3 linked regions of the Homo sapiens genome follow. The protein of the gene in region 1 purifies or fractionates together with the protein of each later gene. This does not show direct contact. Each region holds a gene or a part of one and is shown on either strand. Other genes may lie near its edges. The genes, in order: OBI1, MAP7 and KCTD13.

The links.
Region 2: the proteins of OBI1 (region 1) and MAP7 purify together in Homo sapiens (affinity purification with mass spectrometry, with the first as the bait; one large-scale study listed by BioGRID). This does not show direct contact.
Region 3: the proteins of OBI1 (region 1) and KCTD13 purify together in Homo sapiens (co-immunoprecipitation; one large-scale study listed by IntAct). This does not show direct contact.

Annotation. Positions count from the first base shown.
Region 1 is NC_000013.11:78,649,132-78,652,785, reverse strand, and holds part of OBI1 (ORC ubiquitin ligase 1), read left to right. Parts: intron 1-3,654. UniProt on the Homo sapiens protein: E3 ubiquitin ligase essential for DNA replication origin activation during S phase.
Region 2 is NC_000006.12:136,347,861-136,351,514, reverse strand, and holds part of MAP7 (ensconsin), read left to right. Parts: intron 1-3,654. UniProt on the Homo sapiens protein: Microtubule-stabilizing protein that may play an important role during reorganization of microtubules during polarization and differentiation of epithelial cells. Associates with microtubules in a dynamic manner.
Region 3 is NC_000016.10:29,912,640-29,916,293, reverse strand, and holds part of KCTD13 (BTB/POZ domain-containing adapter for CUL3-mediated RhoA degradation protein 1), read left to right. Parts: intron 1-3,654. UniProt on the Homo sapiens protein: Substrate-specific adapter of a BCR (BTB-CUL3-RBX1) E3 ubiquitin-protein ligase complex required for synaptic transmission.

The sequences.
Region 1 (3,654 bases):
GCTCTGCCTCCTGTCAGATCAGAGGCAGCATTAGATTTTCATAGGAGCATGAACCCAAATGTGAACTGTGCATGCAAGGGATCTAGATTGTGTGCTCCTTAGGAGAGTCTAATGCCTGATGTTCTGAGGTGAAACCCCCCAGTCTGTGGAAAAATTATCTTCCACGAAACCAGTCCCTAGTGCCAAAAAGGTTGGGGACCGCTCCCTAGGATACCACTTTACTATGCTTACTCCAGATGAGTTTGGAATTGTATGTCACTTACCATTGCCATTTTTTTGTCTTGCATTTTTATTTCATGAGTACTGTTTTATTGCCACGGGTCTCATTTGAGAGTAAATTGGATAGAAAGTCTAATAATGTGACAAATGATGACCTTTTTTTTTTTGTCTTGGGAAGATCTTATTAAAGAAAATTATGTGTGTGTTTTGTTCTACCCAGAGCAGGATCTGGGTAGAAGAGGATGGGTGCTAGATTCTTTGTGTTTTGCTACCACAGATTACAGTCAAATATATAACAAGTAACTTGTTTTAGTAGTTCTTTAGAAATTTCTATTCTCGTAAGATAAATTCATTGAGTTGTCTAGAAATCATCATCTGATAAATACTCATTCCAATATTCATTTCCAAAGAAATGAATTAGTCACCTGTTTCCGAAATCTTCCCAACACAAAGGTGGTGATAATACCAGGTATCCAAAGGTGCAGAAAACTTTCCTGTGGGTGACATTGTTAATGACTCTTAGCAGACAGAGCCAAGCAGTCGGCCTGTGGTGGTGGTTCTGTATCATTTTGTCATATTAAATGGGGAGGTTAAACTTTTGCTTTTTTACAGTTTGACAGTGGCTGTTGACCTTTTGCTGCTTGAAGCACTTTTAGGATTGTTATCTCAGCCTTTCATTATAGTACATCAAAATTCACTTTTATTAATCTTGCAGTTGTTAGAGATGAGAAGGACACTCACCCTATTGTCAGTGAGCCTGAAATCTAATAAGGAAGACAGGATGTAAGCAGTTTCTAAGTACAGCACAATGCAGAAAGAGGTGAACATTAAATAAATGAACAGAGAGTGCCCTATCAAAGACTTGGTTAATTCTGAAAAAGATTAATGAAGGGCTTGCAGAGGAGGTGGCATTTTATTTGCATCTTAAAAGGAGGGAAGGAATTTTTTTTTTATTACTGTCAGGAGGATGGAGAGACCAGGAGGATATATCAAGCTGAGAAATGGAAGCTCTATAAATAGGGAGCCCCATAAACAGGGAGCCCCCAGTGTTCATATTCTTATTGGTGAACATAAGTAGACCTGTGAGGTTGAAGTGTGCATTGTGTCAAATATTGAAATGGTAGGTCAAGGGAAATGGCTGTTTAAGAATTAGATTATGTTCTTTGAAGGCTATACCTCGAACTATGAGCAGGAAAAAAATCATTACTGTTTTGTAGGAGAGGAGTGAAAGCTGCTTATTCATATTTTAGGAAGGTAGCTCTGGCATCATTGTGAAAGATGTACTGAAATGAACATTTGGAAGCTTGGGAGGTGGTCATTGCAGTAGATCAAAGACAAAAGAATGAGAACCTTAAATTCATTGGGGTGAAGATGCAAAGGAAAGGATAGATGAGAGGTGAAAGAATGTTTGGAGGTAGATTTGTCATGTTTTGACTATTCTGAGATGTACATTTTTTTTCAAATTATAACATCTCTGGAATCTGATTGTATCTTAACAATTGTAATTGACAGTTTTTCATTCTTAGTGATACATAAAATATTGGTGAATCTTCAAATCTGTGGCTTCTTAGACTTAATGTATAATACCAGCGTCTGGTGACAGTTTGGATGGTGAGGATAAGTAAAAAGAGTGATTCAGAGATAGCTCTGTTGTAGCTCAAGTGGAGAAGTAGTGATCTCATTAACTTAGGTGGGAGGGTGTGCAGGAAGAGGAGCAAGTGTGTAGTGGAGGCCAAATTATGGTTGAGGCAGCTGCAGGATCCTTATATGTAGTCGGCTCCTAGGCACTTGGATATAGTAATATTACCTTTTTTTTTTTTTTTGAGGGATTGCTATGTAGAAGTGTCTGTGCTGACATCCATTATATTATCTTAAACCTGAATGAAAAGGTTACTAGGTTAAGCCACAGTTTTCAGAGGCAGAAACTGATGCCCACAGTAGCTAAAGGGCTTACCCAAGGTCAGACTGCTCAATAAATGGCAGAACTGGAGTTGGCCCCAGGTTTGTCTGTCAGAGCCTAAGCTCTGCCACTTACTGACTCCAGTTACAGAGGGAGACTTGGGAGTTGTCAGCATAGAATAGATGTTAATGCCATGTGACACATGAGATTGAGAGAGAAAATAGAACACATCAGATAAGATGGCCCAGAACAAAACATTAGAGAAGGCAGTTATACCACCTTTAGTATCTTGACTATAAGCATCCCACTCTCTGATCCTGTTTCTATCATACTTATTCTCTACCATTACTTCAACCTCATGGAGACATTTTTGTTGACCCTATCACTTTTTCACTGTTATCATTACCGCTTGTGTACTTGTTTCCCTTATTATTCGTGGTCATTTGTTATCATCAGTCCCTGTCTCTTCCTCCTTGGCAAAACCCCAACTCTGGGTAAACCAAACTACTCATCTACTTCCTTCCTGAGTCTCCACAGCTAAATATTGATAAGAAAAATACACACCTACGTTAATTAATCTTACTTTGCATTAGAAACCACAGACCTGGAAAAGGAACTCAACAATGTATAGCAATCTGCTACCTATCCCTAGTAAATTAGCTTTCTCACTTTTCAAAATTACTGCTTTATTCTCCTGTCTTCTCAAATCTGTAACCCACTTCCCTTCTCGTTTTCAGCTGATAACTTCACCTCATATTTGATGACAAAAGATAAGCAGCTGAGATAGTGGGAACATGAATTTCCTCATTTTTCCATCCACAGATCTTCCAACCCCTTTGTGTTTGTTCACACACCCCCTATTTTCCCTTCTGTTGCAAAAGAAGACAAACCCTCACTCCTGTATGTGCCAAAATCTCCTTTTGTGCTTTGGATCCCTTTCCCCTCTTGACTTCTTAGGGACTTTGTTGCCTATCGCTGTAATACCCCCATCACTCTTCATCCATCACTAATATCCTCTCTTTATCATTCCCATTGGTATTCCTAACCGTCGTCTCATTTTTATGCTCTCTCCTTTACAGCAAAACATGAAAGAATTGTCTGTATTTTCTGTCTTCACTTCTTCATCTTTCATTGTCTCTCAACCTCCAGTCAGGTTTCCATCCCCAACATTCGCTGAAACAGTGCTTGTCGGTAACTGATCAGAGTGACTTCCAAGCAGTTAAATCCCATAGTCACATCTCAGTGCACATCAAACTCAATCTCACATCAATATTTTACTTATCTGGCCGCTGCCTCTCTCTTGAAAAACTTTCTTGCCTTGACTTCTGTGATATCATATTCTCCTTTCCTACATCACAGGACCCCTCCTTGTCAGTTTCCTCTGCTGGTTGCTCTTCCTCTTCCTTTGCTTGCTGGAGTGCCTTCTTTTCTCCAGCTGTTTTGTCCATTCATGAGATCTCCTCCAGTCCTATGGCCTTATATGCTCATGTCTTTTATGGCAGTGACTCAAAACCTGCCTTGTTGAACTTGTCCAC
Region 2 (3,654 bases), on another chromosome or scaffold:
TCATCTGGACATGGAGATACTTTCCACACAAAGTATTGGGAGGTTCAGTGAAATGCTATCTGTGAAGGAGTTCCAAAAACTGTTGTACTATATGAATGTTACATATCATTATCTTTATCCTCCTAAAATGAATGCAGTGTCCAGAAAACACACAGTACACTAGGTGTAGCTGCAGTGTGATGTAAAATAATGCTTTTGGTTTGTTCCTGGTATCCCATCTTCTCCTGCCTAGCATTTTATTGGCTTTTTTTTGTTTTTTCGTTTTTTTTTTTTTTTTTACCATCAAAACACAAGGAGTCAGTATCACCAAGGAACAGTTTGCAGTGATCCCAAGATGTCTTAACCTCCATTGTGACTGATCATTCACTGTCTTTTAAGGATAGCTCAGCTGACAGTTTTCTAAACCCACTGCTTTTACAGACTGCCTGCCTTGTCACTCATTTCATGATTTTCCCTGTTTTCTCGAGGGGCTATTTTTATGACTTGCATTTCCAAGAATAAACATTATCTGCATACTTAAATTTTATCCTGCTTGTCTTCCGATTATTATAAAACTAAACCTAGCACTGATCCCTGGGGCTCTCTGCCACTTAAACTCTTCCATCTAGAGAAGGGCTTGCTTATTCCTGTCTTTATTTTGTTTTATTTTTATTTTATAAAACAGAGTCTTGCTCTGTCACCAAGCCTGGAGTGCAGTGGTACGAGCATGGCTCACTGCAGCCTCTACCTCCTGGCTCAAATGATCCTCCCACCCCAGCCTCCTGAGTAGCTGGGACTACAGGTGCGAGCCACCACACCCAGCTAATTTAAAACATATATATTTTTATAGAGATTAGGTCTCCCTGTGTTGCCCAGGCTAGTCTCAAACTCTTGGCCTCTGGCCTTAAGCAGTCATCCCACCTTGGCCTCCTGAAGTGTTGGGATTACAGGCGTGAGTCACCACGCCCAGCCTATTCTTGTCTTTAAAATCCATCCCCAAAACAGCTTCCCATTCATGAATAAACATTCCCTTTGATGCAGTGGAAACTCAGGTTTTTAAACAGTTTTACATCTGAAATTCTGTTAAAAACTTTAAATGACAAATCACATCCATAAATATTTCCTTTCACTCCTAGTTTCAAATCAACCTTAAAATGCTTATAAAATCTTTGGTTTTCATCTCAGTGCATTATTTTTAGTGAGGCATTCCATGATCCTTGTGATCAGTCAGTATCTTTATTAAATACCCTACTTTGCACCTCAAGTAGAGTTATAGATCCCTCCAGCTTGCCCACTGTGAATTAAATCACTGATTAATGGAAATGCTCGGGGTCCCTGCCAAAGAACATGGTGTGCCTGATACTCCATGAAAATCCATCATGACAGATCATGCAAGTATAGTGGTAGAATTTATTTTTGCTAGAAAACTCCACTGCTCAGAATGACTATCTTTTCATTCAAATTGAGAGAGAAGTATCACTTTTCCTAATGTCTTTAGTACCTAATATATTCGTAAATAAATGAATGCTGTGAACTAAATTACATTTGCTCCTCCCCACCTTGAGATATTTCAGCAAACTGTCTAGCAGCACCCCAGGAGGATGGCGACCCCCTAACATTACTTTTCCTAGCAGCTAGGACTGAGACCCTTTGTTATAGAACAACTCTGTACCAGAAGTATCCTGAACCCTACTCCTCACCTTACTCCTGAGTGAGACGCCTGGCCCCTTTGCCCCAAAGCCATTTTTCTTGCCCATCTCTTTTCCCCCTGACAGGTTCCCCACTGACATTAGTTAGAATGGAAGAGGGTTTGAGTTATCACAATTCTGGCCAGATTTTAAAGGTATACAGAAATATGTGAATATGCCAAGTGTGGTGGCTCACGCCTGTAATCCCAGCACTTTAGCAGGTCTAGGCAAGCAGATCACTTGAGCCCAGGAGTTCAAGACCAGCTAGCAACATGGCAAGATCCCGTCTCTACAAAAAATACAAAGATCAGCCGAGGGCAGTGGCATGCATCTGTAGTCCCAGATACGCGGGAGGCTGAGGCGGGAGGATCGCCTGAGCCCAGGGAATTGAAGCTGCAGTAAGCCGTGATTGCACCACTGCACTCCAGCTTGGGCAACAGAGTGAGACCCTGTCTCAAAGAAATATATGAATATATATTAATAACATATATGGATTTTATAAAATTTTATAAATGAATATATACATTTTCCTATGTAAGATATACGACGTTTATAAAATACTTGAAATATATCTTTATGAAATATATGAATATTATATATGCCCTTGAGCTGATCATTCTTACTCAAAAGCCATGTTTGGTTCTTAAGAGAGAGTACTTGTGGAGGGATGTTCCACAGGAATTGAGGAAAATATTTGTCCATGGATAGGAAACTTGCTTTGGAACAGGAAACAAAGGATACGGATCCATATGAATACAAGTCGGGGAGGACAGGGGTGAATATCAGAATGGGAACAGAGGAAGTTATCTGCAGTTTCTCAGGTCATTCTGAGATGTTCTTCTACCCCTAGCTGAGAATCTCTAGTCCAGAGGCTAAGAAGCTCTGCTGCCTATACAGATACTGCCTTACCCTCCTAATACTCCAGAAGACATTTCATGTTTGTTCATTGCCGTAGGGGAGCTGTCTTTTCGTAGAATGTTCGTCTTTTTTTTTAAATAAGAAGTTTTTGGTAATTTTGGTGTTTGACCCATTCATTTTCCCTCCAAATCTTGAGTTCATCATTGCTCTTAGTTTGGCCTGAAGGAAAAGTAACATTCCCAGGCCCCTATTGTTCACACAGGAAGAGATGTATCCCTTTTAATTTAAAAGTTACTTGTTTTAACATAATTAATAAATATCAAGAGAAAATAAGGTTCTGGCTTCCATAAGCTGTGTGGACTGCAGATTCTTGCCAAGGTCCCAACCCCTGCCTGTACACATTTTGGACTGGAGCAAAGCGTGCGGTCTTCAAAAGTCTTACATCAGTCTTCAAACTTCAGAAGGTAACTGAAGGCAGGGAATTCAGAAGCTGGTGCTCTTATTCTGAGTGGACACACGGATCCATACTCCTTAACCCCAGTACTTCAGTTTCAGTTTTATAGTTTCTACCAGTCCCGATGTCCCCTGAACATTTCATGACTTGTCATCCAATGCATATGGCACAATTATCCCTCTGATTGCCAGCAGGTAGAATGGGCAGGTGGAGGGGAAATGAAATCTGATACTGGCTCAAGTCTGGGGTTAGCCATTGCCATTATGACTTGTTAGTACATGCAGGCCTGGAAGGTGACAGGTTAAGGTTGCCAAGGAAAGGGGGCTCTGGAGATACGTTCCTGTTCTTTATCCTTTGCCAGGACTTCTACTTAAATTCTCTCTGTATTAAGAACCAAAATTGTTTCCCTAGTTACAGAAAGGCTGTTGGTGTTAGGCAAGAACAGGAAGATGGGTGTGGCAGCCCAGGCACTTAGAACAGTAGATGTTAGGCATGTGTGTGCACACGTGACTTGGGGGGGGGGGCATGTGCACATGTGTGTGACTGTACTCTTGTGGAGACTTATAATGCCTAGTGGCATTCCCTTCCCTTCTTAGTAAAATAGCAGAAAAGCATCATCACACTGTATAATATTTCAGATTATTTTACAAATAATGTTTTCAGTGTATTCTGCAA
Region 3 (3,654 bases), on another chromosome or scaffold:
AATATAGTGAGACCTTGTCTCTAAAAAAATTAAAAGAAAAAAGGTGAGAAAGTCTGTTAATAAGAGTCCAGTGACCTTTAAGACAGCTGCAATAAGGGCTTGAAGAACAGTTAGGAAAATGCTATTGGAAACTGATGGAAAGGAGATCCTTGTGTAGCGGCAGAAAGTTTAGCAACACTGTCTCCTGCATTAGTGTGGAGGGTAGGAAATATACCTAAGGAACGGATGGTCTAGCTAAGGAGCTTTCCAGACAGAATGTTGAAGGTGCCACCTGGCTTCTTGCTGCTTATAGTAAAACTGAAGAGGAGAGAGTAAGTTAAAGAAAAAAAACACTTAAATGAAAAAGAGCCTGAAATTGTTGGGTTTGAAAATTCCCAGCCTTTCCAGATAACAAGTGATGTTAAAATTAACAAATGGCTTCCGTGCAAAGATTAAATACAAGGCATTAAATACAGGGAAATGTGGTCTAAAGGTCAAGCTGAGGATGTGATGAAAAAGTCCTTTGTTAAGACCTCAGAAATACCAACAAGATGCCTCAGAGGGGACTTCCAGTCGAATGAAATAATAATCACGCTTCTGAGAAGGTTAAAGGTGTTGTCTTTCAGCGTCTCAGCACAAGCCCAAAGTAGAGAAGGGCTTACCTTGCAGAGATTTTCTTTTTTCTTTTTCTTTTCTTTTTTTTTTTTTTGAGATAGCTCACTGCAACCTCCTCCTCCTGGGTTCAAGTGATTCTCCTGTCTCAGCCTCCTGAGTAGCTGCGATTACAGGTGCCCACCACCACGCCCAGCTAATTTTTGTATTTTTAGTAGAGATGGGGTTTCACCATGTTGGTCAGGCTAGTCTCAAACTCCTGACCTCAGGTGATCCACCCACCTCGGCCTCCCAAAGTGCTGGGATTACAGGCGTGAGCCACTGTGCCTGGCCACTTGCAGAGATTTCTAGGTGTGGCTTTTTTCTAATGTAGTGAACCCTAAGACATGCAAGATACCCAATAAGTTATGAAGAGAATTATATTGGCAGAGACACTGCCAGCTTGGACTGAAAGGGACAGAGCCAGTGCAAAAGGACAAGACGGCTTTGCACACCCAAACTTTTACAGGCAGGAAGCAGGCAGATGAAACTGTGGAGCTGCAAACATCTTTCATGGAAGAGGTGGGACGACTCAGGGAGAGCCATGGAGAATCATTCATGAACAGGAGTAGGCATCAAAGAGTTCCTAGCATTTCTCCAACTGGATTACAGAATTTCCACACACCAGTGACTTATATGTATGACTTATATGTGCCTCCTGTCCCCTGCCCCACTTTTTTTTTTTTTTGAGACAGAGTCTTGCTATGTTGCCCAGGCTGGTCTCGAACTCCTGGGCTCAAGTAATCCTCCCACCTTGGCCTCCTGAGTAGCTGGGATGACAGGCACACGCTACCACGCCCGGCTTCCCCTGCTTTTGAGCAAGAATGTCCTTACTGGTTATCCTGTGCCTGCCTCTACCACTGCACACTGGGAGTGTGGAGATGACCTGTCTCTTTAGCTCACAGGTCTGCAGATAGGAAATGCACTTAAGGGCTGGATGCGGTGGCTCACGCCTGTAATCCCAACACTTTGGGAGGCCAAGGCAAGTGGATCACCTGAGGTCAGGAGTTAAAGACGAGCCTGGCCAACATGGTGAAATCCCGTCTCTACTAAAGAAAATTAGCTGGGATGGTGGTGCATGCCTGTAGTCCCAGCTACTTGGGATGCTGAGGCAAGAGAATCACTTGAACCTGGGAAGCAGAGTTTTCAGTGAGGTGAGATGGTGGTGGCTCTGCACTTCAGCTTGGGAGACAGAGCAAGACTCCATTTCAAAAAAAAAAAAAAAAAAGAAATGCACTTAAGGAGCCATAGTTACGGAACTGCATGCTAGAGCCACATCCCCACCTGGACCTGACTGAGATGATGAGATTCTGTACTTTGAGCTGATGCTGTAATGGGATGATGGGGGATCCTGGAAGGTGGTGAGTATATTTGGCATGTGGGAGGGGGGAAATCACTGAGAGCCAGCGGTGGCCTGTGGAGCCAGCCACCAAGGCAGCCTGATGATTCTCGTCCCCTGGTGCTCGTTCCTGTGTGTCATCTCCTTCCTCACTGGATAGGACCAACAGACCTAGGTCATAAAAGACAATGGAGGGGCCCGGCGCTGTGGCTCACGTCTGTAATCCCAGCACTTTGGGAGGCTGAGGCGAGTGGATCACCTGAGGTCGGGAGTTTGAGACCAGCCTGGCCAACATGGTGAAACCCTGTCTCTACTAAAAATACAAAAATTAGCTGGGCGTGATGGCACACCTCGGTAATCCCAGCTACTTGGGTGGTTGAGGCAGGAAAATCACTTGAACCTGGGAGGCGGAGGTTGCAGTGAGCCGATATTACGCCACTGCACTCCAGCCTGGGCGACACAGTGAGACTCCATCTCAAAAATAAAAAAGACAATGAGGCTTCCACCTTGCCCTCTCTGGAATTATTTGCTCTGGAGAAGCCAGTTGCCATGCTGCGAGGATACTCAAGCAACCCTGTGGAGAGATCTACATGGCAGGGATTTGTTGTTTCCTGCCAGCAGCTAGTGCGAACTTGCCAGCCACATGAACAAGCTTTCTCAGAGTGCATCCTCTAGGGGCGGTCATGCCTTTGATGCCCACAGCCCCACTGACATCTTGGCCACAGCCTCAGAAGAGACCCTGTGCCGGAGCCACCCAGCCGAGCCACTGCTGAGATCCTGACCCTCAGAAACAGAAGTAATAAATATTGTTAATTTAAGCTCCTAAATTGGGGGCAGTTTGTTACACAGTGATAGATAACGAATTCATACTCCGTAATTCCCCTCGCACATTTGTGGTGTCTTTTTAAAAATACCAATTCTCATATACACAGTGGTCTGTTTCTGATCGCTCTGTTGTGTTTCTCAGGTATTTTTGTTTCTGTGCCCGAACTGATACCGTTCTCACTGTTGTGGCTTTGCAGCCTATCTTAATATCTGGCAGGGTCGGCCTTTCCTCTTTGCTCTTATTTTTAAAAACTGACCTAAGTTTGGGAGGATGGCTTGAGCCCAGGAGGTCAAGGCTGCTGTAAGCTGTGGTCATGCCACTGCACTCAGCCTGGATGACAGCAAGACCCTGTCTCAAAAAAAAAAAAAAAAAAAAAATGGCCTCAGTAATTGTAGACTTTTATTATTCTCTGTTAATTTTAGAGAGTCTTATGAGTTTCTGCAAAAAACAAATCTGGAATTTGTATTAGAATTGCGCATTGAGTTTTCAAGGTTGGGAGAAGTGAGAGGGATTTTGGCATGAAGATTCTAGAAGACAGAAGAGAAAGAAGCCCATGGGTTTGCTTCAGATTTCTTTCTCCAACGTCATCCCACCCAATGAAGTTCATTCACTCAACAAATATGTTCATTCATTCAACAAATACAGAGCATCAGCTGTATACTAGGTAGTTATTCCTAGGTGGGAAGAGACAGATCATAAACAAATACAAAAAGTTAGAAAAAGTCAGACACTAACTGCTGTGTAGAAAATGAACTGATAGGCCTGGTGCAGTGGCTCACGCCTGTAATCCCAGCACTTTGGGAGGCTGAGGCGGGCTGATCACCTGAGTTCGGGAGTTCATGACCAGCCTGACCAACAT